Linked DNA regions of Homo sapiens: all the other regions are linked to region 1. Evidence: fine-mapped expression QTL. A gene starts in region 1. Each other region holds a variant in brackets. All regions are shown on one strand. Distances are from middle to middle.

Region 1 (8,171 bases):
CGTGGAGACCCAGAGGGCTGAAGGAGACGGGGATGACAGGGGACACACTGCCTGCAAGGTGGTGAGATGTCCCATCACCGTGATGCCGGAGGACTGACGGCGTCTACCCTTACAACTCACAGCGTGCTGCTCCTGACTGGGCCCCAGGGCGCTGGCAAGCCGCAGGAACTGCACAGACATCTCCAGGACCGAGGCCATGTCCTCCCGCCGGCCATCGAACTGGGGCAGCAGGGCCCGCAGACGCTCACAGCTCAACGACATCCGCTTCCTGGTTCCGGTCAAGAAACAAATACCTCTGGGCCCTCCTGCCCTCCCCGAGAAGGGACAGCAACTGCTAGAACCTGCCAGATAGACCCTGGGCGCTTGTCAGGCAGAGGGGGCTACAAGATGACTCAGAGCTGCCCCCGTGGTCTGAAGCCCCGAGATCCACATCAGAGCACAGCCTGGGCCTGACCCCTGGACCTCGGCGACAGGCTGTCCAGCCCAGGCCCAAACCATGGCTGCTTTGCGGTGTGGAAAAGACAGCGAGGGTCAGAGGCAGTCAGAAGCACAGAGGGTCACAGGTGCACAGCCTCAAGAGGCCAAGGCTTCAGGATAAAGAGGGGCTGCAGGATGTTCCCCAACAGGGCTTTTCTGGTTTACTTGGAGATGTGCAGTCTGTCCTTCTCCTGGGCACAGGCCACGAGCCCCTCCCAGCTGCCTGACACCTGGTGGCAGCCCCGAACATAATCTCACCCGCTCCACCCCTTTACAGCGCCCTCACCCCTGGGAGGCACCACCACTCACCTGCGCTCCCTCTCGCTGATCACGTTCCGCCGAAGGCAGGAGCTGGGACCCTCGGCCACCGTAGGGGCCTTGGGCGGGCCCGAGCCCCGGGCCGAGTCCTCGCAGCAGGAGAGGGCACCAGACAGGGAGCCGCTGCCGAGAAAGCCAAGAGCACCGGGCCCTGAGAACCCCAGAAAAGGCCACCAGGAGTCCCAGATGCCAGAATGGGCGTCTTTGGGGTGCGGGTGGAAGCCAAGACTGGGTCACGTAGGGACACGGCCCGGCCCTCTCTGCACCCCTTCCCCTCTCCCAGGGTCCAGGGCTCCGCCCCAGGAGGCCCAGGATGGGTGGAGCCCAGCAACTTGCGGAAGAACCCCTGGGTACAGGCCTTGGGCCCCCAACCCCTTGGCCGCCAGCCCAATTCCTCACTTGCATCCCCTGACGGTAGGGATTCTGGAGACCTCCGGGTAGGGCTCGGAGCACCGGGACGCCATGAACTCGCAGCTGCGGAGCGACCCCACGCGCACGGCCCCTTCCGCAGGCAGCCCCGCCCCCTCACGTGTGCTCTGCCCACCTGCCACGTGCTTTCCACCTAGCCCACCCCACCCCCACTTGCAATCCGCCCCCATAGCGCATGCGCTCTAGCCCTCCCCACGCAGCCAGCCCGGGGCCCACGTGACCCGCGTTCCTGCAAAGAAGGTGCTGGAAAGGGACTCGGGGGGTCCACCCACTCTATGCCCCCGCAGGACGCCAGGGGAAGGGGCCCCAGCCCAGGTGGCCCTGCCTCTACCCTTACCTTCCCGGGGGTCGCCTCGGTTCCCACTTATGCGGTGGTCTCGGTGCCCTTGGGCACTTTGGAGATGCGGGCTCTGCCCTTAGGAGCCCAGCCCCTGGTGGGAGTGGGCGGGCTGGGCTGAGTTGTTTAGCCCAGGCCTGGGGGACCCAGGGACACAGGGAGGGGGAAGGGTACCCGCCTGCTCCCCAGTCGCCCACGCCTCCATTTTCCCCCAAATCTAGTACGCTTGCAGACGCTGCGCCTCAGGGTAGGGTCACCATCCACACTTCTGGGTCGCCCAGAACCAGGGGCATCTTGTCCCCACCCCAGGCCACCATCGTCCGTGCTCTTCCTCCCGCTGAGCTCTGCCGGGCACCCTCGGAACCGTCTGTCCCTTCACCTGGCCCTGCCCAAGCACCATCCCCGCTTTATGCCCTGGGGCCCCAGCTCGACCCCTCACCTCACACTCTCAACAGGTTTCTGCGGGATCGCGGGGGTCCTGCCCATCCAAATTCAGAAAGCTCCGGCGCCAGGTGTTTGCTCACCTCCCCGCTGAACTCCAGGAGCCGCCCTGCGCTGGGCTTGAGTCCCCCAGTACATACTTTTGGGGGGATGACGGAGGGAAGGGGGAGGTGGAGACCCTTCCTCTTTCACGGAGGTTGCGGGGGGCCCTCAGGGAAGCAGAGGGGACGAGGGTGGGGGGTGAGGCTGGACTGTTGGGAGGACATCCCTGGCCTGGCTCGTGCTGAGGTCGTAGCGGGAGGAGGTGGGGTGGGTGGCAGGGGCTCTCCTCCCGAGAGGGGAGGCAAGAAGGAGCCCGGGCAGGTGCCACCACACGGGGACGTCTGTCCGGGGTGCCCCAGTCTCCTGTGGAGAAGGCGCGGCTCTGGGCCTCGGGCTGGCATCCTGGACTTTGGGCCAAAGATGGGTGAAGGGTGTTTGGAGCAGAGGGAGGTTATGTAATATAAGGTGGTGTCTCCATCCCTGCTCCGCCCAGCCTTGGCTGCAGGTCAGACATGGAGGAGGACGGGGTTGGAGAGGAGGGCAAAAGCTCTCGGGGACCTGGGCCCCTCTCCCGGCCCTGCCCCTGGCCAGGGAGGGATGGACGGGCTGGCGATCTGGGGCTCCTCAGTGGCAGAGTGGGGCCAAGTTTTTGTTTCCCTAAAGCCCTCGGAATGTCATCAAACCTGTGACTCTCCTGCCGTTGACAACACGTGTAATTACTGCTAATTAATCACAGATGCAGATGGTGCGGCCTCTCAGTTTTTTCTGAGTTCCCCAGGCAGGAGGGCGTTGGCAGAAAGGCCACCATCTTGCCCCGGCGGCACCCGCCCAGGGGTGGTGGGACCCCGGCAGCAGCACCGGCCAATCTAGGGACCTGAGGAAAAACCCCCAAGATGCCCACGAGCTGTGTGGCGGGGGCACAGGCTGAACCTCTGCTGGGGACTTAGCATCCTAGACTTCCCCGAGTGTTCCCCACCCACCCCTCAAAAGCATCTGTGTTCAGCCTGCTGCCTCCTGGAGAAACAGGGAAGGACCCTCTGGAGAGACACTGGGGAGGCCAGGGACCACAAAGTACATGGCATGCGCCCTCCAAATGGACCTGGCCCTCCCCCTGGCCCTCGTGGGCACAGTCCTGGCTTAGTGAGGGGCCTGGTCCACCCTGCAAACCAACAAAGCTCTGGGGACAGAAATCGCAGTTCTCCAGAGCTCTGTGTGAGGCTGAGCCAGGGTGACGCATGTGTAACAGTGTGAGCACGTGCACGGGAAAGGGGGCCCGCAGGGGGACCCTCTGCTTCCTAGTCTTTGGCCTGCAGCATCTTAAGTTGGGGCCCCTCCCCACCCGTCTAAAGGTGCTGTGTGTGCCCGTCTGGGTGAGAGCACAGGGCGGGGTGCAGTCATCCCCCTCCCCCAGGCCAAGCCCAGGATGTGGCGCCCACCCACAGATGCCGCAGCCTGCGGGGGGTGTGGGGGCGGGGGGGCGGGGAGTCGTCTTGAATCTGGCTTGTGTTCAATGACCAGTGTTGACCACGGCAGAGCAGCACAAGCGGGAGGTGCTGACGGTCCCTGGGCGCAGCGGCTGGACGCTGGCGGTCCGAGCAGCGCATGTGCCCTGCTGCCCGCCAAGGACCCAGAGCCCCCTGAGCCCCCGCCCACCACGGAGCCCTCCCAGGGGTGTAGGGCCCGGTGGCGGCGCGCTTGGGCTTTTCTAGCCATTGACGAACCCCGTCCTGTTTTTCGGAGTTTTGAGGGCTCAGAGGGCCGCGGCGGGAGCGGATCGCCCTCCCTACCCCGCACCCCCGTCCCAGCCTGGGCCAGAGCCGCCGCGGGTCCCGGCGCGGCCGGCAGGGGGCGCGCGCGGACAGACGCCTGCACCCGACCCTGGAACTGGCGTCTTTTCCTCGCTAATCTGCGAGGAAAAAAAAAATGTTTTTCAGGGCAACGCGAGGGAAGAAGGTGGCGGCTCCCACTCGCTTCTCCCTCGGGTCGGGTCCGAGCTGCCAGGCCGCATGCCACTCCCTGACGGGGCGCGGACCCCGGGGGGCGTCTGCCGGGAGGCGCGCGGCGGGGGCTACACCAACCGGACCTTCGAGTTTGACGACGGCCAATGCGCCCCCAGGTACAGTCTGCTGCGCCCTCCCCACGCGGGGAGGCCCCGGTCTAACCTAAGACCCCCAAGTTCCCCCTCAGGCTCCCGCACCCTCCAGGACCCGCCATTCCCAGGGCCATCCAACTTCCCCAGGACCCGCGAGTGCCCTCCCAACCACCTTGGGGAACAGGGGCGCCCCTCAGGGTGGGCCGCACTAATCAGCAGGTGCCGAGGCAGCAGCGTCCGTCCCCATCTGTCCTCGACCTGGTAAGAAGCTGGGGGGAGCGGCCGTGGCTACATGGGGGTCCTGAGCATCTCCCAGGTGTGGGGAGTGGCAGGGAGGCTGGGGGCGGTGCAGGGCCTTCCATCTCCCCCAGCCCCTGCCCCACCCCAGCTTGGGGAGGAAGGTTCCATCCTTCTTGTGTGGCATGGCAGTGCTCGGCCAGGGTGGGGTGCCCGGCGAGGTTACCCCACACAGTAGGGGGTTTCCAGAGCAACCTTCCAAGGAAGAGTCCCCAGTGGGAAGTGGGCTAAGTGGCTGTCAGATGAGGGCGGGAGTCCTGGGTTCTGGTCACTCCTCGTTCCCCGCTGGCCTATCCCTGGGAGGAGAGGGCCAGTTGAGAATGGCATTCAGGTGACCTGGAGCTAGCTGTTCCCTGTGCAGTGTCCTGGGATGCCATGCGTCTGCCGTCCACCCAGTGACCAGTGCAGAGGCACGGACCGGCAGCTGAGTGGGACAGTCCTGAGCGGAGGTTGCCCCAGGGTCCAGGTTCCCCATCCTCTCCCCCATCCCTCAGCTCTTGAAAACAGGCAAGTCTGCCCCTCACCCTGTCCCCAGAGCCAGACTCCAGGGAACCCTGGGCAGAGCCGGTCACTGCCTTGGGCGAACCCCTCCCCACCAGGACAGAGCCCTTTCTTCTGGATCCTGCCCAGTCTCAGGCTGTCCTGAGGCCAGAGAAGGGGGTGGAAGAGCATACCTGAGAGCGGGAGGCCTGGTGCGGCTGCCTGTTTGTTCTATGGGACTCAGTTTCCCCGAGTGTAAAATGAGGAGGTAGGGCGGATGGTCTTTAAGGGCTGCCTCTGGTGAGGGACCAGGCTGGAGAGGAGGTTCCCAGAATCAAGAGGCAGGCACAGCACCCACCTGGCACCCGGGGGAGTCCGGGGTACAGCGTGTGTGAGGAGCAGGTGCTCTGAGGGTGGACAGTGACTTGGTGATGTCCTTGGGAAGTGGGCACAGCCTGGACGTGCTCTGAGGGACTATCCGGGGGATGCCTGTCAGGCACAGAGAAAATGACCCCAAGGGGGTCCTGGATTGCCCTCATCTTTGTGGGCTGGCCGGCCCCTACCATCTCCCTCCCCAGCCTAGCGTTGCCCTCCCTGGCCATTCTGCTGGAGTTTATCACCTACCCTGCTGGGCCTGACCTGCTCCAGACGAGCCGGCAGGACAGTGTCCTCAGGGTCCAGCCTTTAGCTCCAGGCCTCATCCTCCGGGTCCTTCCAGACACCTGTCTCTCCCAATTGGCCCTGCCCACCGGCCCGGGACAGCTCCTCCTCCCCGCTGGACTGAGCTGGCCTCCGTTGCAACAGAGATTCCCTGTCACACTGCAGGCAGAGCAGCCGCCGGCAGTGGAGGGATGTCAGGCGTCAGGCTTGGGGAGGGAGCAGGACCTGGGCTTGGCTGGGCTCGGGAGCGGGGAGCTGAGCTCCAGGTGAGGCCAAGGCTTGCGGCCCAGGCAGGTGGCTTCAGCTGCAGAAAGAAGAACCTTCGTGCTGCCTGGTGGTGGGGGGAGCTCTGTGGGGCGGGTTTCCCCACCAGCTCTCACATGGGGAGGAGGGTGCCAGGCAACAGCGTGGTCAGAACCCAGGCCCTGGAGTCCATAGGTCTTGGTGCCAGGCCTTGAGCAGGCCTCTGTCTTTCCTGGGTGCTGGAGGATGCCAGCCTTGGTGCTATGGTTCAGAGGGGCCAGGAGGTGCTTGGACACCCCACCCCACTCCAGTGCCCCAGCTCAAACCCCCAGCTCCACGCTAGTGGTGTCCCTGAGTCAGCCTCAAGGCCATCAGGCCGGAAAGTGGGGCTCCAGAGAGGAGCTCCTGGCCTTCCAGTTTGCAGGGGTCTTCACGGGCCTCTGGCCTCCAGGCTCCCTGCTCCCACCTCCATGCCATGGAGTCCCAGGCCCTCAGCTGCCTCCCCACAGGCCCTGGAGATGACAGCTGTTGTAGGACAGGGAGGGACCAGTGGCCCTGGTGGCCCCAGAGCTGGCAAGTGCCCACCCCCTGCCCAGCGCACTTCGCATCAGAGCCCCTGCCAGGCCTTTCCTGGAAATACCACTTCCCAGCAGCTGTGCTCCAGGGCGGGCCTGGGACCCTCTAGGCCCTGATGGGATCAGGCCCTGGCATCCTGCCAGGGTACATGCCTGGCCCAAGGTCCTGGCCAGCCCTCCAGGCCCATATTAGGGAGCAGTGCCTTCAGCAGCAGGAAGTAGCTCAGGGCTCATGGGAAAGGTTTGAGGGCCCAAGATACCGCCCAGCACTGGCCGGCAGGAGGGACGGCTCAGGCCACAGGGAACTCAGGGGTCTGCTGTGGCCCAGGAGTGGCCACAGTAACAGCTCAGGAGGACAGAGGTGAGTGAGAAGGGAGCAGACAGGGTCCCCACGAGGGCCTCTGCTTCTGTTCCAGTGGCTGGCCTGGGTGTGGCCTGTGTCCTCGCACCCGGCAGCCTCCAAGTGTGCTGGTCTGGTTCACCCACCGTATGGGGAGCTCTTGATTAACACAGAAAATTACTTGGGACGAGCCTGGTGTGGCAGTAGTGGGGCCTTGCTGTGGGGCCATCTCATGCCCTCGGAGGGTGTTGGGGGGCATCTCGGGCTCTCCCCTGAGGCTTTTTGTCCTGCTTCCCCGGGATGCAAACTTGCAGGCTTTGACCCAGGTGCCATCGGCCCTGGAAAGGGTGGCACTTCTGTGTCTCCCACAAACAATCCCAGGTTTCTCTGCAACAGGAAAGTTTGTCCAAGTGTGTCCCAGCCCTGCATGGGTGAGGGATGCTGAACGGGTATCGTGTACCCAAAAACAAGTGCTGTGTGTGCATGTGAACCTGGGCGCTCCGTGAGCCAGGCAGGCGCACCGTGGGCACGTGTGTGAGAGCTGGAGGAGGATGTGTGGGGCCCGCCAGCCAGCTTGTGTGACCTTGAAGTCACCGGTCATGAGTCTGGGGAAAGGCAGGCTGGGCTCAGCGTGCCCGTGCTAGGTGGCTGGGTGCCAAGGCCCGGTTAAATGGGCATCTTTCAAAGGTGTCTTGGGACCTCTCCCAGCTGTGTGTGTGGATAAGGCCACCCATGTTCACCCAGACCCACTTTCACCTGTGGAACTTGGAAGTGAGCCAGCGGGGCTGGAACTGAGGCCAGGATGCGATTGGCCCAGGGAGGTGAGACCAGTACTAGCAGCTGGCAAGTGTAACAGGTTTGCAGGGGACAGTGGCAGGGCAGAGGCCGCGAGCTTCCTGGGGTAGGTCCCTGGGAAGGCCCTCCTTGAGAGGGGGCCTCCAGCTGCTCCCTAGATCGGGGGCGGGAGGTGGGGGAGGTGGGAGAGGAGGGTGGCCTCACTGGAGCAGAGGTGGGGGCATCAGGAGATGGAGGGCATTGCAGGACCAGGGTCTGGACTGGCACAAGGCGGGCGCCCCGGGAGGAGCAGAGGGCCTGGAGGAGCTTCTGGGAACTGTGTCTGTGAGGTTGGTCCATCCCAGCACTGAGATGCAGTAGCTGTGTCAGCTCTGGCGAGTCACTTCACCTCTCTGGGCCTCAGTTTCCTCATCTGTAGAATGGGAGTGCTAGCATGGACCTTACGAGGTTGTGTTGAGCCCATGCTGACAGCACATACTTGGTGTTTACAAAGCTGTGTTGGCGTCGGGAGCTTGCACACCAGCCAGTTCGTCTTTGCCTTGTCACGCACCAGCCTGTGTTGACACGTCAGAGCTAAGCATTTGTCCGGTGACTTCCCAAGATGGATTCTTAAAAGTGGAATTGCCCAGTCAAAAGATTCCCACA
Region 2 (8,171 bases), 68 kb after region 1:
GATCATCTGGAGTGAACTGTCAAGGGTGGACCATCCAGGGTGGACCATCTGGGGTGGACCATCTAGGATGGACTGTCTGGGGTGGACCATTCAGGGTAGACCTTCTGGGATGGACCATTTAGTGTGGACCATCCAGGGTGGATTGTCTAGGGTGGGTCATCTGGGGTGAACTGTCCAGGGGGGACCATCCAGGGTGGGTCATCTGGGATGGACTGTTCAGGGTGGACCATCCAGTGTAGATCATGTGGGGTGGACCATCTAGGGTAGACTGTCCAGGGTGGACCATCTGGGGTGGGCTGTCTGGGGTGGGCCATTCAGAGTGAACCATCTGGGATGGATCTCTAGGGTGGACCATCCAGGGTGGATCATCTGGGGTGGACCATTCAAGGTGGACCATCTAGGGTGGACCATCTGGGGTTGGTCCTCTGGGGTAGATCATCAGGGGCGGACCGTCTGGGGTATACCCTCTGGGGTTGTCTGGGGTGGGCCATCCATGGTGGACCCTCTTGGGTGGACCATCTGGGGTGGATCGTCTGGGGTGGACCATCCATGGTGGACCCTCTTGGGTGGACCGTCTGGGGTGGATCATCCAGGGTGGACTGTCTGGGGTGGACCCTCTGGGGTGGATTGTCTGGGGTAGACTGTCCGGGGCCTCTTGCAGTTTCTCTAGCTCAGGTCCCAGGCCCAGATGAGCAGGACCCTGCAGCCAGGCCCTTGTCCCTGCACCATACCCACTGTGGAGCAGCCCAGGCAAGCCCAACCCAGCTAAGTCTCTGTCTCCCTTTTCAGGGTGAGGGGCAGCCTTTTGCGAGCTCCACCTTCCCCTGCTCCAAGTCTAGGGAAATCTTTGTCAAGTTCTAGGGAGGCTCAAAATAGAACAGGGGCGGGAGAGTCAGCTGCTGTGAGTCAAGGTGGGAGAACGGGCTGAAGGTAGAGTTCCTTTTAAAGACAAATTGACAGAGTGACAAGGTAACAAGAGTATATTATTACCTGGAACTTTCCAGAATGTGTCGGTGCACTTTCTGGGACACTCCCTGGAAAACCCTCCTGGTGACATTTTCATTCCAGGAGCCTGAATGTGTCCTTAGTGGCATAGTGTTGGTGGTACTCCCAGGGTCTCTCCTCATCACTCCCCCTCCCCCTGCCATGTCCAGAGCCCCAAGCTGGAACCCATTGCCTATGGAACGCCACCTCTTTTGTGGTCCCGTCCCCAGCACACACAGGCGATGCACCTGCTTGGGCCCAGGGAGTGGGGAGAGGGCAAGGGCGTAGGCCATTCCCAGCCAGGCAGGGATGAGCCCAGGGCTGTGGGTACAGGGCCTGGGGCCCCTGCGGAGCAGACAGTGGTGCCAGTGATGTGGTGGGGTTCCCTGCCCTGGGGCAGAGGCGACAGTTTCTTAGACAGCGTCTCAGCAGTGCTAGGTGGTTTCTGCAGCTGGGCTTTCAGGAGACCCAGGAGGCGCTGGAAGTGACCACCCAGGTTCCCAGACCACAGAGTAGCCAGGCCAGGGAGCGGACAGGGTCTCTGCCCCCAGATTCCCCCCTCCCTCCTGCACCCCAACCCAGCCCTGGGTGAATGTCTCATGGCAACATACAAGATGGGTACCCCGGAAGCCAGTGCCCAGGTCACTGGCACACACCTAGGTGGGGTCTCCACCGGGCCTGCTCCTGCCAACCCTGGACCCCTAGCCCCTGACGCCTGGGAGTATGGACAAATCCAGGCAGCCCCAGCCAGCAGAGCCCCCTCGCACGACCTCCTGATGCCCCTCCTACCTGGCCAACTTAGGGACAAGCTGGGGGGTTGCTTCAGAGAACAGGGCCTGGGGGAGGAAGGGCAGGCACTGCCCTAGGAAGCACCATGGGCTCCCACTCAGGGCCGTGGCCAGGAGAAGCTGTCAGCTGGTGTCTCCAGGACACACCATCCATAGCATCTGACCCCCTGCCCCCACCCGCTGTCAGCCTGCACACACTCGGGGGACAGGTGTGGCTCCTGACCCCTGCCCCCACCCGCTGTCAGCCTGCACACGCTCAGGGGACAGGTGTGGCTCCTGAACCCTGCCCCCACCCTCTGTCAGCCTGCACACGCTCGGGGGACAGGTGTGGCTCCTGTGCCTTCTCGAGTGTCGGAGCTTGGAGTCTCCTAGGGTGTCCAGGAGTCCTGACCCGGCTCAGAGCCTGCCAGGGATGGGCCAGGGAGTCTGGAGAGGCCCAGGATGCCTGCGGGGGGGGGGGGGGGGGCACTGGGATACCGGTGGGGGGGGCACAGGGATGCCTGCTGGTGGAGGGCACACAAGGATGCCCGTGGGGGACACTGTGATGTGGGTTGGGGGGGGGGGGGGCAGTATGGGGATGCCCACTGAGGGGGCACTGTGACTCCTGACCAGCAGAGAGTAGGGGCCTCCTCCCGCCTTCCATCCTCCCCGCCTTCCATCCTCTCCGCCTTCCATCCAGCCGTCCTCTCAGTCTCTTTCTGTGCACCTGCTGCACCAGCCTCCTCCCAGAGGAGGTCCTCCCCACCTCACCTCCGCACCCCCGGCTGCACTGCCCACCTCCCCTGCTCCACCCACGCTCAGGCCCTGGTGCATTGCAGGATGGACAATGGGGAGGCCTGCTTCATCCTCAGCAGCAGGAACGAGGTGGACCGCACGGCTGCAGTGAGTGAGGCTGAGGCCCTGCCCAGGCGGGAGGGGCACCGTGGGGCCGGGGAGCGGGGGTCCCTGAGGGAAGAGACCTGCCCCAGGCTGCCGGTGCCGCCCAGCAGCCCACAGAGGCCAGCCCGTCTGCACTGACCAACCACCCACCCCGCCAGGACCACCAGACCATCCTGCGCGCCTGGGCCGTGAAGGACTTCGCCCCCAACTGCCCCCTCTACGTCCAGATCCTCAAACCTGAAAACAAGTTTCACGTCAAGTTTGCTGGTGCGTCTGGGGCACACGTGGGTGATGGTGTATCTGGGGCAGGGCACGTGTGCACACGTGGGTGATGGTGCATCTGGGGCAGGGCGCATGTGCACATGTGTGACGGTGCGTCTGGGGCAGGACGCGTGTGCACACGTGGGTGACGGTGCGTCTGGGGCAGGATGCGTGTGCACACGTGGGTGTCGGTGCGTCTGGGGCAGGGCGCATGTGCACACGTGGGTGACGGTGCGTCTGGGGCAGGGCGCGTGTGCACACGTGGGTGACAGTGCATCTGGGGCAGGGCACGTGTGCACGTGTGTGTCGGTGTGTCTGGGGCAGGGCGCGTGTGCATGCTGTTGGGTGATGGTGCGTCTGGGGCAGGGCGCGTGTGCACACGTGGGTGACGGTGTGTCTGGGGCAGGGCGCATGTGCACGCAGTTAGGCGAGCTGTGTGGGGCAGCGGGAGGGGCTGGCCCTGGAGCTCCTCACACAAGCACACCAGGAGGTGCTGGAGGGGACGGCAGACCCCCATCCTCACCGCATCCGAGAAGGGACCTAGGGGGTCCAAACTCTTCAGATGAAGTCTTATGCTGGGATCCTGGGGTCAGTGAAGGCAGGGTCAGAGGTCAGGTGGGGGCAGGAGCACCGTCTGATGAGCACCTCTATGGGCAGGGACCATGCCGGGTGCCCGGGGAACGGGGGGCAGGCCCCATGCCAGGTGCCCAGGGGACAGGGGTCAGGGCCCACATGGAGTGCCCAAGGCACAGGGGCCAGGGCCTGCCCCGCCCTGGAACTCCTCGCTGAGCTGGGAGAGAAGCACAGGAGCGATGGAAGGTCCACCGAGGCTCAGACCAAGTAGGGGGTTGAGGTCCACAGACTCTCGGGGCAGAGATGCTGAAGCCGGACAGCAGACACGGGGGTGCCAGGCAAGGGTGCATCTGCATAGCACCTTCAGGAAGTGAGCAGGTACTGTGGGGGAGGAGAGAGCCGGCAGAGCGGCAGGTGGACCGGCCTCCCCCACTGCCCGCAGACCACGTGGTGTGTGAGGAGGAGTGCAAGTACGCCATGCTGGCGCTGAACTGCATCTGCCCGGCGACCTCCACCCTCATCACCCTGCTGGTGCACACGTCCCGCGGCCAGTGAGTGCCCCGTGCCCCGGGGGACCGACCTCCATGGCGGGGCCGGCGCAGGGAGACAACGCAGGGCCTGCTTGGGGGCGGGGATGGGCTTCCCAGAGGAGGGGCACATGGCGGGCAAAAGTCCTGCATAGGGAGGGGATCCATGCCAGGGGAAGCAGAGGGGGGCACCTGCAGACCCAGCCGGGGAGAAGGGGCAGCCATGGCCGAGGGTGACGCTCCCCTGGCCCCGCCCTGGCCCACAGGGAGGGACAGGAGTCTCCGGAGCAGTGGCAGCGCATGTATGGGCGCTGCTCCGGCAACGAGGTGTACCACATCCGCATGGGTGACAGCAAGTTCTTCCGCGAGTACGAGGGCAAGAGCTTCACCTACGC[G/A]GCCTTCCACGCCCACAAGAAGTAAGGCCGGGCTGCATCCACAGGGCTGGCGCTCCAGGGCTGCTCTGCTCTGTGCCCTCCCCACCCTCCCGGTCAGGCACAGGGGTGGCCCTGGGGCGGGGCTGCAGAGGGCTCGGGGGAGGGCATCAGGTCATCCTGCCTGGCGAGGGCAGCCGCAGGACTGGGCTCCGGGTCCACATAAAAACCTGCCACGCGGCTCCTCCCTGAGGCTTGTGGGCTGACCCCAGCTCTCTGGTCCCCAACACCTCTGGGACGGGAGGGCTCAGCCAAGGTCCCTGACCCCAAATGGCCCCCAGGAGGAAGACGCGGAGCTCCGGTGGGGACTCTGGTGATTTGCAGGAAGGGCAGGCAGGGAGCGGGACAGGGCGGGTGAGCGGCGGTACCTGAAGTTGCCGGTGCCTCTGCCCAGGTATGGCGTGTGCCTCATCGGGCTGAAGCGGGAGGACAACAAGAGCATCCTGCTGAACCCGGGGCCCCGGCACATCCTGGCCGCCTCTGACACCTGCTTCTACATCAACATCACCAAGGAGGAGAACTCGGCCTTCATCTTCAAGCAGGAGGAGAAGCGGAAGAAGAGGGCCTTCTCGGGGCAGGGGCTGCACGAGGGTCCGGCCCGCCTGCCCGTGCACAGCATCATCGCCTCCATGGGTGAGCCGGGACAGGCGCGCGGGACTCCCTGGGCCTGCTCCTTTGGCGGGAGACCAGGCGGGACACCGGCAGGTGACCAGGTGGGATGGGAGACCAGGCAGGACAGGGGGAGGTGACCAGGTGGGACAGGAGACCAGGCAGGACAGGGGCAGGTGACCAGGTGGGACGGGAGACCAGGCAGGGCGGGAGACCAGGTGGGACAGGAGACCAGACCGGGCAGGGCAGGAGACCAGGCCAATGTGGCCCCCAGACCCAGTTCCTCTTGGCCTATGCCTCCAACCTTGGACAGGTGGAGTCTCTCTGGGCCTGTTTTTGAATCTGTCAAACAGGTGTCCCCGCCTTCCTGTGGCCACCTTTGTGGGCATTGCTCACTGTGTCCAAGTGCCTGTCCAAGTGGGGCCGCCCACAGGACCGGTTGGCAGCTCAACCGGAGGCTCCTGGTGGTCCCATCAGCCCGGAGGGTCTGCTTCACGTGTGTCCCTCAAACAGTCGGGAGTCCTGACGTCCACTGGGGCCAGGAGTTGGCGGAATGAGGTCGCAGTGGCCGAGGGCTTTGGCCTCTTCTCGTGCCTTCAGGGATCCTCCCGGGGAGCCGCTTACCAGACAGGGTCAGGCTGCCTCTGAGCAGGTGGAGGCCCATGGCCCCTAGGGCACCACCCATAGTGGTGTTGCCCCCTCCCCAGCCAGGCCTTCCTGGGGGACAGTTAGGGAGCAGGGCCAGGCCAGGAAGCCACTCAGGCCACAGACCCACAGCCGGGCCAGCATGTTGCCACCTCCGTACAGTGGCCCAGGCAGAGGCTGACCCTATGGGGCACCCCAGCACGCCCACCCTGGGGTGTTGTTACACGGTGGCTGCTGGGGCACCAGGTGGTTCAGTGCAGTGGGGCACAGTCTCCAAGACCCAGAGGGCCCTGGGGTTTGGAGACGTGCCGATGCGGAGCCCACCACCTGCCAGACCCCGCAGGTTCCCGGCCGCCGTCTACGGCAGCTCACTCGGGGGGCCGGGCCTGGCCGCAGGGCACTGGGGAGGCAGGCTGCTGCTGCCTAGCCACACCTCCACCTTCACCTGCGCAGTAGGCACTCTGCCCCCAGGTGGCTTCCAGGAAACCAGGGTGACTCGGGCAACCCTCACTGTACCCACAGAGGCCCTGGGCCATACCTAGAGGTCCACAACCCCCATCTGGCAGCCTGGGGTGGTGCAGGAGTGGCAGAGTCTGCTCCCACAGGCACTGAGTCACCCAGCTGCTCCCCACCTGGCCCCATCCACCAGGCAGCCTGACCAGCTGCACAGGCCCCTAAGGCTGAGACCCCCGAGCCCAGAATCAGCCAACCCCCTCCTCAGGCATCTGGTGCTGAGGCCACAGCAGCTGGCCTGGGTGGCACCGATGGGGCACTGGGGCCCCCTGGGTCTTCGCTCAACATCATCGCCACCCCAGAGGCCACTGTCCCTGTTGTATGGAGGGGGAAACTGAGGCATAGATTGAAGCTCCTCAGCTGGAGCACAGGAGCCAGGCCATGACAGGGTCTCCAGAGCTGACTGTGTTCACCTGAGCTCTGGGAACTCGCCGCCCATGGAGGGTGGGAGTCGGGCTGTGGCCAAGCACAGGGCTCTCTTCCAGGGACAGTGGCCATGGACCTGCAGGGCACAGAGCACCGGCCTACGCAGAGCGGCGGTGGGGGCGGGGGCAGCAAGCTGGCACTGCCCACGGAGAACGGCTCGGGCAGCCGGCGGCCCAGCATCGCGCCCGTCCTGGAACTGGCCGACAGCTCAGCCCTGCTGCCCTGCGACCTGCTGAGCGACCAGTCGGAGGATGAGGTGACGCCGTCGGACGACGAGGGGCTCTCCGTGGTAGAGTGAGTGCTGCCTTGGAGACGGCTCCCAGTGGGGGGAGGAGCCGCCCATGAGTGCGGGGGATGGGTGTCGGAGCATCCTTGGTGGTCCCCCATGCTCTGAATTGCAGCTTCTGGACAGCTCCGTGGAAGTCCTTGTTTGACAAATGAAATCTTCAGGGGGCCCAACACAGACATCAGGGCCACATCACCCTCGTCGCCGGGGAGCACTTTTGAGTGTCACTGAGATGGGGTGTGCTGGGCTACACCCTTTCCAGTTGGGGCTGGGGGTGCAGAGCTAATTGGAGCGAGGCAGCTCACTGGCACAGGGGCTGTCAGGCACCAGGCAGCGCCACCCTCAGAGAGGGGCCCGTTCCCACCCACCTCACCAGCCCCATAGTGGCCCGGCCACTCTCTGAATCAGGATGGAGCTGGGCAGTGACCCCAGGCCATCCTCCACCCAGTGCCCTAGGTCTCCCCCTTAGCACTACAGAGCACAGAGGGGCACAGCCCGCCTGACCAGGGGTGGGTGTCCTCTGAGCAGGGTCCCTGTGCAACCCCTGGGCAAGGCAGTGTCCCAGCCTGGAAACCACAGCCCGTCCTGAGTTGTTGTCCTGGCCTAGGTTTGGGGCCAAGTCCTCCTGCTTCAAATCATGAGACAGGAGGCCCCACTCTGTTCTCAGCAGCTTCTGCCTTTTGGCCTCAGCCAGGACAGACAAGTGCCCCAGCTGCAGGGCCCGAGGTCCATCCTCAGCGGGGCTGCCTCACTCTGTCCTGGCCTTTGCCTCTGGGGTGGGGTCAACACACTGTAATGACAGCCCAGCTGCTGGGAAACAGCCCTGAACCATTGCATGTGTGTGTTGGGTGCTGCTGGGGACGGGGTGGTGGCCTGCTGGGGACAACAGCCTGGCTGGACAAGTATGTGGGTAAGAGCCCAAGGCCAGAGTGCCTGCCCCACCAGCCGGGGGTGCTGGGGATGTCAGGGAGGCATGGCGGGCGGGCAGAGCCCTGTGGGTTTTGCATGTGGCTGAAAAGCCTGGTCTAGGCTGTGGTGGGAGGAGAAAGACCGAGTAGGGCATGGGGGTGGGTGTGCAAGGGGGGTGTGTCCGGTGTGTGTGTGTGGTGTATGTTATGTGTGTGGTGTGTGTCCATATGTGTAATGTGTGTTGTGTGTCAACGTGTGTTTGTCACGTGTGGTGTGTGTTGTGTGATATGTGATGTGTGTCTGGGTGTGTGTGGTATGTGTCCGTGTGTGTGATGTGTGT
Region 3 (8,171 bases), 750 kb before region 1:
CCTGGAGCTCCCAGAGCCGGCGGCCCACGGCCTCGCCTCCAGCCAGGAGGGTGCGGAATTCTCCCCCACCCAGCAGAGGCTCTGGCCATCTGTCTCCAAGGATGCGGGGGAGCGGACCGGCTGTGCCGCTCTAGGGCTGCTCCGCCTGACAGACAGCAGTGTCGACCACCCATGTTTGCTGCACAGACTCTAGCTTCCACACCCCTCCCCACCCCAGCAGCCTGGGGAAGGAAGGCTGGAGGTCCCTGCATGACGGGTGAGGAGAGAGGACAGGAGCCCGGTGCTCTGAACACCGCCCCAGCCCAGCTGCACGTCAGGACCCCGCACTGGCCTCTTACATTGAGAAGCCAAGACCCACCCAAAACCCAGCTATCAAAGTCTCTGGGGACAGCACCAGCAGGGCAGAGGGCGTTGGTTCCCTTAGAATGTGCTAGAAGGCTCATCCCTGCAGGAGGTGCCCCTGCAGGCATCCTTGCCCCCACACTGCCTGGTGCTGCCCACCTGCTCACTTGCAGGTGACCCTAGTTTCTCAGTGGCTCGGCAGCCTCGCGGGCTGTTGTAACACTGACACCACGTCTGTGAGATCATTGGCTTGGAAGATTCAGCTCAGAATTGGATAGAAGGGCCCTGCCCTGCCAGGCACAGCTGCCGGCCCTTGTCACCTGCAGCTGCATGAGAAACTAAGGCTCAAACCAAATCCTTCTGGACAGAAAAGCAGGTCCCCCTCCACTACCCCTTCGTCTGGGCTCTCGGTCAGCGGGGTCAGGGTGGCCGGGACAGTCACTCTCATTTCCAGAGGAGGCGAGAGGCAGATGAAGGCCATGGACAGCAAGCCATGGGGCCACAGCACAGCCTCAGGTCGTTGCTGACACACCTGCGCCTCCCACAGCCCTCCCCAGGAAAGCCGCGGCAGAGCTCACCCCACTCCCAGGGTGCTCACCTGGGACCTCCTCACCTCTGCACCTGCCCTGGGTATCCTCAGCCGTGACCCTGGCCTGGCAGTGCCGGCGGACAGGTTGCAACCAGCCCAGCTCCCCAGGGGTGAGAGGGGCCCATCACCGGCCACCCACAGGCATCCCTGGGTCTGCTTTTTGGAGCAGTGTCCGGGGTTCCCTTCATATCCTTTATATCTATGTGAACCTGACCGGCACACTCACTCCAGGCCCAGGTGTTCTGTAAACACTGAACACCATGCTGTTAACCAAGGTTACGTTAAAAAGTGACTATGTGGCCAGGAAATAGATTTTGTATAGTTATGTGCTGTTAGGATAGATACGGGTTTTCGTCTGCGGCTCCTGGCTTATAACTCCCATAGCACTTGTTCCCATTTGCGTTAGAATGTTGGGGGTGTTGAGCCTCATGGGCAGCCTCTGCCTTCTCCTGCCCTCCTTTCACCTGCCCCAAGGCGGCACCCTAACTTTCTCCTGCCTTTCGGATTGTGGGTCTTAAGACCCTCCCATGAGAGGGTCCCATCCTATGCCATGGGGGAAGGAATGCTGACATCATGAAGCTTCCATAAAATCCCAAGAGGACTCGGTTCAGTGCGGTTCCTGGAGTGTGGCGCGCCCAGCAAGGATGTGGGAGCTCTGCGTCCCTTCCTCCCACTTCGGTCTACGCATCTCTTCATCTGCAATATTCTTTTTCATTAATCTATAAATGTGTTTGCCTGAGCTCTGCGAGCTGCTCCAGCAAATTAATAGAATTGGAAAGAGGGGGTCATGGGAATGCCAACCTGAAGGCGGCCAGTCAGAAGTTCCAGGGGCCCAGACTTGCGGCTGGTGTGTGTAGGGGCAGCCTTGGCGGGGGAGCATCACAGAAGTCTTCTCCTGTGTTGATGATTATTGAGGTGTGAGAGTAGAGGAGAAACACAGTTCAGGTGAGAGGCTTCCCTGCACAAGTTACCAACCATATGACCTGGCACAACTTTCCCAACCTGTGCCCCTTCCTCGCCTACTGGGGGGTAATGAGATCAATGCCGTAGCCTGAGCAAGAGCCCAGAACGGGGCTGGGTGGGTGGGCAAACCTCGAGAAACGTGAGCTCGTATGTGAGGCATATGACAGGCCGAACAGTGTGCCATGTCCGTGGTGCCATGCCCCAGCGTGGCTTTGAGCGCAGTGACTCTCTTAGATTTCTGATTGTAAAGGCCCTGTGTGCTGGGTAAAGAGTTTGGAGAAATGCAGAAAATTTAAAGAACATGAAGAACTGCCCAGAAATAACAACTGTGAACGTTTTGGAGGCCTCTCGTCCTTTCCTGTGTACCTCGTGGCACAGCTACACTGTGCCCTGCCTGGGGTCCCAGAACATGACAGCATCCACTGCCACCCTGACTCATGCCTGTCCTCAGCTGGGCTCCTGCGCCAACCACAACCCCACTCCCCCCTGAATGACAGCCAGTCTGTCAGGATATTCCTCCTCCGCTCAGGGCAGCCCCACTGCCGAGTCCCCAGCATGCATTGACTTGGGTACTCCCTACCTTGAGTCAACCATTAGGCCCATCACGCTGATGCAGAGCAGGGAGCCCCAAAGTGGGGCTGGGCCCCCAAGGATTCTTTACTTCACCCAGGAGAGACTTCAAGGGCAAGCCCCTGGTGGGGTGGGGCTTTATTGACGAGGCAGTGTTGCAGCTCCGTGACTGTCCCTACAGAGCAGGACTACCCCACAGGCAGTGCGCTGAGAGGAGCAGCTCAGAGCAGTTGTGCAGTCACATCTATATCTACTTTTAATTACAAGCAGATTAAGGGGTGGTTTATGCAGAAATTTCTAGATCCTGGGGTTATTGCCATGGAAAGAGGAGGTAACGCCCAGGTGTTGCCATGGCAGCGGTCAACTCACACTGGTGGGCGTGTCTTATGGAAAGGTGCTTCCACCCCATCCCTGTTATAGCTGGTCCTCAATTTGGTCCAGCATCTGAGCCCCGCCTCTGGAGTAGAGTGCCACCTCTCCACTGCAATGTGGGTGGGGACAGATCCCCTGGGGCACCTAGCTGAAAGTCACATCCTGCCGGAAGAGCTAAGACCACACCTGTCTGTCTGATTTCTGAAGCTGGGCTCTCATCCCTTGGATCTCTGGCTCCCTTCTTGTCCTAGAGGCGAAGGGGAAGAGCTAAATATTTCGTGACCTTTAGGCCATACTTGTAGAGGGGTGTGCAGGCGGGAGGAACTGAGGCCAGGTTCC[G/A]ACTCTGGCTGGAGGCCTACCCAGGCCCCTGAGGTTTCTCCAGGGTCAACCCCATGGCCCACTGGCAGCTGAGTCACACAGAGTGATTGCTGGTCATGCCCTTGATTGAGAACGATGCACTCAGAGCGTCCTCCGCTCATAAATAGCAGGAAGCAAAGTACATTACGAGAGCATATGGTACCTCTAGGCCATTTCTGCCTCTGGCCCCGTCACTGCCACAGTGGCTGAAACTCATCTTCTGTTCTGACAGGTTTCCCTAGAAACCCATCAATTTATAGTGTCTATAGCTGGCCTTTTGGAGGCCCCAGACCAAACTGTGTTAGAAAACAACAGCAACAACAAAACTCCTATTTCTCCAAATGGCCCTGGAAGATGCACCGGCTGTGCCCTCAAGACGCTGTGTGTGGGGCATCCGCCTCCCTGGGCGCGTGGAGCTGGCTGATGGCCAGGGTGTAAGGGTGCATACTGGGCAAGGACGGGCTGAGGCAGTTGGCAAGGTCTGCATCACCTCCACCCATCCGTGGTCCCTGGTCATGAAGGATACGCCCATCCATCCACCTTTCTGAAACTGTTGTCAACGCACTCTGAATTCAGGAATGCTCTCCTCTCTCTTCCTTCTCCCCTTGGCAGACTCAGGGCGGAAATGGTAGCTGACGTTTTCCCCAAGAGCGAGGACAAGGAATGACCAAAAGATCATCATCCCAGGGGCTTTGGGAATGTGGGCCCTGCTGCATTTCCTTCAGCAGAAGGGTTTCTTTCCTTCAGTTTCCATCAGCTTTCAGGGAGGACAAAGGTCCCTTTTGCTAACTGATCTCTGTCTCACCCTCTGCAAACCCATCCTATAGGCTGCAGTCATGGCCCCACTTGGGAGTCCGCCTCCTTTCTCTCACTCCTGACTTCCCAAAACTCTGGCTGGTTGTGTGCTCCAGGGAACTTTCTAGGGTGATGGCAATATGCCATAATTTGGAGTTTTAGGGTGGTAGTTACGTGGGTGCCTACAATTGTTAAAATTTACTAAATTAAGATCTGTGCATCATATTGTGTTAAATTGTATCTCAAACAGAAAAGGACGAGAGTGCACCTTGTGGAGGGCAAATCTGTGCCGCACCCCCCAGCCCCGCCGGTGCTCTGGGGTTGGCCTCAGCTCATGCCCTGCAAGTCCTCGCCTGCAGACGCAGCTTGCTTTGCTCAGCACGCTCATGCGTGTATGCCACGGGTCAGTTGAGATCTGGACCATGGGTAGGTACAGAATCTTTCTTGGTTATTGTGATGGTTTTAACAGCTTTGTTGAGCTGTAATCTGCCTACTATCGAATTTCCCCATTTAAAATACACAACTCAATGCTTTTTAGTAACTGTCTCCACGAGCTGTGCAACCATCAGCACAGTCTAATGTGAGAACATTTTCATTGTCCCTTCCCAAAGAAGGCCTGTATTAATTAGCAGTCATTCCCCGATCCCTCACCTCCTCTAGGTCTTACCTGACCCCAGGCCAGCACCAATCTCCTGTCTGTCTCTATGAATTTGCTGATTCTGGACATTTTGTATAAATGGAATCAGACAACGGATGCTCTTAGTGACTGGCTTCTCCACTTGGCAGAATGTGTTCAAGCCTCTTCCATGTTGCAGCACACAATTGTACTTCATCCTTTTTTGTTGCTGCATAATACTCCATGGTTGCTGAATACTATTCCATGGTATTACTTGTCAGTTGGTAGACATTTGGGTTGTTTCTACTTTTTGGCTGTTAAGATCTAATGCTGCTATGAAATTCATGTACAAGTTTTTATGTGAACATGTTTCCAGTTTTTGTGAGCATATACCTAGGGGTGCAATTGCTGGGTCATATGGTAACTGAATAATTAATCTTTTGATGAACTGCCAGGCTGTTTTCAAATCAACTGCATGATTTTACATCCCACCAGCAGCATATGAAAGTTCCAATTTCTCTACATCCTTGCCAACACTTGTTATTATCTGTCTTCATGACTACAGCCATGCTAATGGATGTGAAGTGGTATCTTACTGTGATTTTGATTTGCATTTCCCTGATGGCTAATGCAGCTGAGCATCTTTTCATGTGCTTATTGGCCAGTTGTGTATCTTCTTTGGAGAAATGTCTATTCAAGTCTTTTGCCCCTTTTTAAAAAATTGAGTTCTCTGTCTTTTAATTATTGCATAGTGAGTTCCTTATTATTATTATTATTATTATTATTATTCTTTTATTTTATTTTTATGAGATGGAGTCTCACTCTGTCACCAGGCTGGAGTGCAATGGCTTGATCTTGGCTCACTGCAACCTCCACCTCCCAGGTTCAAGCAATTCTCCTGCCTCAGCCTCCCAAATAGCTGGGACTGCAGGTGCACACCACCATGCCCAGCTAATTTTTGTATTTTTAGTAGAGACAGGGTTTCACCATGTTGGCCAGAATGGTCTCAATCTTGTCAAGATCAGGATCAGGTGATCCTCCTGCCTCGGCCTCCCAAAGTGCTGGGATTACAGGCATGAGCCACTGTGCCCAGCTGTGAGTTCTTTATTCTAGATACAAGTCACTTATCAGATGGATGATATATAACGATTTTCTCCCATTTTGTCAGTTGTCTTTTTAATTTATTGTGTCTTGAAGCACAAAAGCTTTTAATTTTAATGAAGTCTAATTCATCTGTCTTTTCTTTTGTTCCTTGAGCTTTTGATTTCATATCTAAGAAGCTGTTGAGTAACACAAGGTCACAAAGATTTATGCCTGTTTTTTTCTAAGAGCTTTTATAGTTTTAGCTCTTACATTTAAATCTTTGATCCATGTTTTTTTTTTTTTTTTTTTTTTTTTTTTTTTTTTTTTGAGACAGAGTCTTACTCTGTCACCCAGGCTGGAGTGCAGTGGCATGATCTTGGTTCACTGCAACCTTCACCTCCCTGGTTCAAAAGATTCTCCTGCCTCAGACTCCCAAGTAGCTGGGACTACAGGCACATGCCACCATGCCCAGATAAGTTTTGAATTTTTACTAGAGACAGAGTTTCGGCATGTTGGCCAGGCTGATCTTGAACTCCTGACCTTAGGTGATCTGCCCCCCTTGGCCTCCCAAAGTGCTGGGATTATAGGCATGAGCCACTGTGCCTGGCCTAATCTTTGATTCATTTGAATTAGTTTTTTATATGTGGATAATTTTTGAATATGCATATGGATATTCTGTTATTCCAACGCCATTTGTTGAAAAGGCTATTTTTCCCTATTGAATGGTCTTGGCACCCTTATCAAAAATCAATAGGCCATAGATGTGAGGGTTTATTGGTTTATTTCTGGACTCTCAGTTCTATTCCATTGATCCATATGTCTATTCTTATGCCAATAAACACTATCTTTATTGTTGCCTTATAGTGGGTTTTGAAATCAGGAAGTCTGAGTCCTTCAACTTTGTTCTATTCAAGAATATTTTGGCTGCTCTGGATCTCTTGAGTTTCTGTACTAATTTTATGATCAGCTTCTTTATTTCTACCAAAAAAGTCAGGCAGAATTTCGATAGGGATTACACCAAATCTGTAGGTAAATGTGGGGGCGTACCACCATCTTAACAACAGCAAGTCATGCCCTTCAAGAATGTGGGATATCTTTGTGTTTATCTAGGTCTTTAAACATTTCTGTTAACAACCTTTTGTAGCTTTCAGTGTGCAAGCCTTGGGCTTCTTTTGTTAAATTTATCCCTAGGTATATATGCAATTATAAGTGGAAATTTCTTTAAATTTCATTTTTGGCTTTTTCATCACAAGTGTGTAGAAATAAAATTGATTTTTGTATATTAATCTTATATCCTGCCACATTGCCGAACTTGTTTATTTGTTCTAAGAGTATTTTTCATGGATTTCTTAGGAAGATCATTTCATTTGCAAATTGAGATTGTTTTTCCTTTCCTATGTGGATATCTTTTCTTTTTCCTGACTAGGTTTTGCTAGAACCCTATTGTTGAATAGAAGTGGGGAGAAGGGACATCCTCGTCATGTTTCTGATCAGAGGTAGAAAGCTTTTTCAGTCCTTCTGAATTAAGTATGAAGTTAGCTGTGGGCATCACGAGCACTCTGAGTATTTTTAGACGGTGCCAAAGCAAAGCCCTCCTCCGTTCTCAGCAGACCCGTGAACAGCCATGAACCCCAGTGTCCTTTGCTTTCTCTTGTTCCTTCATGCTCGCCTTCCACCCTCCTCTGTGCTGACCCCTCCAGGCTGCAAATAAAACCCACCAGCTGCTTCCTATGCTACTGTCAATGCATCAGCTAAAGTTGGAATCTCAGCACCAAACCCGAGCCCTTTGTGCCTAAGGCCCCGTGGCACAATAACCTCCAACACAGTCGTTAGGGTGAGACCTTAGGAGTGAACAACCCCTATGCAAATGCCCAAAAATGTATTCAGATGTCACCTATGTTTGTACCTGTAGCTGTCACAAATCGTTTAGAAGTGTGCCATTGGGTGGACGGCTGGATGGATGAAGATAGGGGACGATTTCTGATTTAACAACCACCAAGTGTCAGGAGAGAGAAACACAGTCTGCGAGTAGCACTGACTCTGGCAGAGATTTTATAACAATTCATGCAAAGATTATTTATTCAATAAATATTTATTGAGCTCCTATTATGCACTTGGCACTGGGGAAAAACAATGAAGAAGACATAGAAATCCTGTCCTCTGGCACCTAAGCCTGGTGGGTTCAGGGAGATGCATTTGGTTGCCCTGCCAGGGCCTGGGCTTGAGGAGGCCAAGCCATCTCTCCTAGTCATCTGAGCCAGAACTTGGCAAACTTCTCCCCAGCTGAGTGAGTGTGTCCAGAAGACTTGCATTACCAGGGACCCCACCATGCAGCCATGGCTTAGAGTGCCCTGGAGTCTGAGTTCAGGTCCCGCAGTTCAGAGCAGAGGGAAGGCAGCTGGCAGAGTAAGGAAGTAAGGAGAATCCATGCTCACCCTTGTCTCCCACTATGTGACCTTGGGCCTGGGGCTGGCATGGCAGGTG

The links.
Region 2: its variant is fine-mapped to the expression of KCNT1 in blood mononuclear cells (TOPMed, PIP above 0.99).
Region 3: its variant is fine-mapped to the expression of KCNT1 in hypothalamus (GTEx, PIP 0.94).

The regions. Positions count from the first base shown.
Region 1 is chr9:135,698,209-135,706,379 of GRCh38, forward strand. It overlaps KCNT1 (potassium sodium-activated channel subfamily T member 1), which reads left to right and starts at 3,977. Exons shown (of 31, transcript NM_020822.3): 1 at 3,977-4,160. The coding sequence starts at 4,051. SOHLH1 (spermatogenesis and oogenesis specific basic helix-loop-helix 1) reads right to left here and starts at 1,273. Exons shown (of 8, transcript NM_001101677.2): 1 at 1,195-1,273; 2 at 787-918; 3 at 121-268. The coding sequence starts at 1,259. RefSeq lists a silencer at 3,776-3,905.
Region 2 is chr9:135,766,020-135,774,190 of GRCh38, forward strand. It overlaps KCNT1 (potassium sodium-activated channel subfamily T member 1), which reads left to right. Exons shown (of 31, transcript NM_020822.3): 14 at 2,591-2,654; 15 at 2,810-2,918; 16 at 3,928-4,036; 17 at 4,279-4,428; 18 at 4,838-5,076; 19 at 6,696-6,930. Among named protein-coding and RNA genes, the nearest start is that of KCNT1, 68 kb to the left of the region's middle. The variant G/A (reference allele first, on the strand shown) is at 4,408.
Region 3 is chr9:134,947,358-134,955,528 of GRCh38, forward strand. It overlaps LOC105376313 (a long non-coding RNA gene), which reads left to right. Exons shown (of 3, transcript XR_930421.3): 3 at 1-1,670. Among named protein-coding and RNA genes, the nearest start is that of FCN1, 34 kb to the left of the region's middle. The variant G/A (reference allele first, on the strand shown) is at 3,176.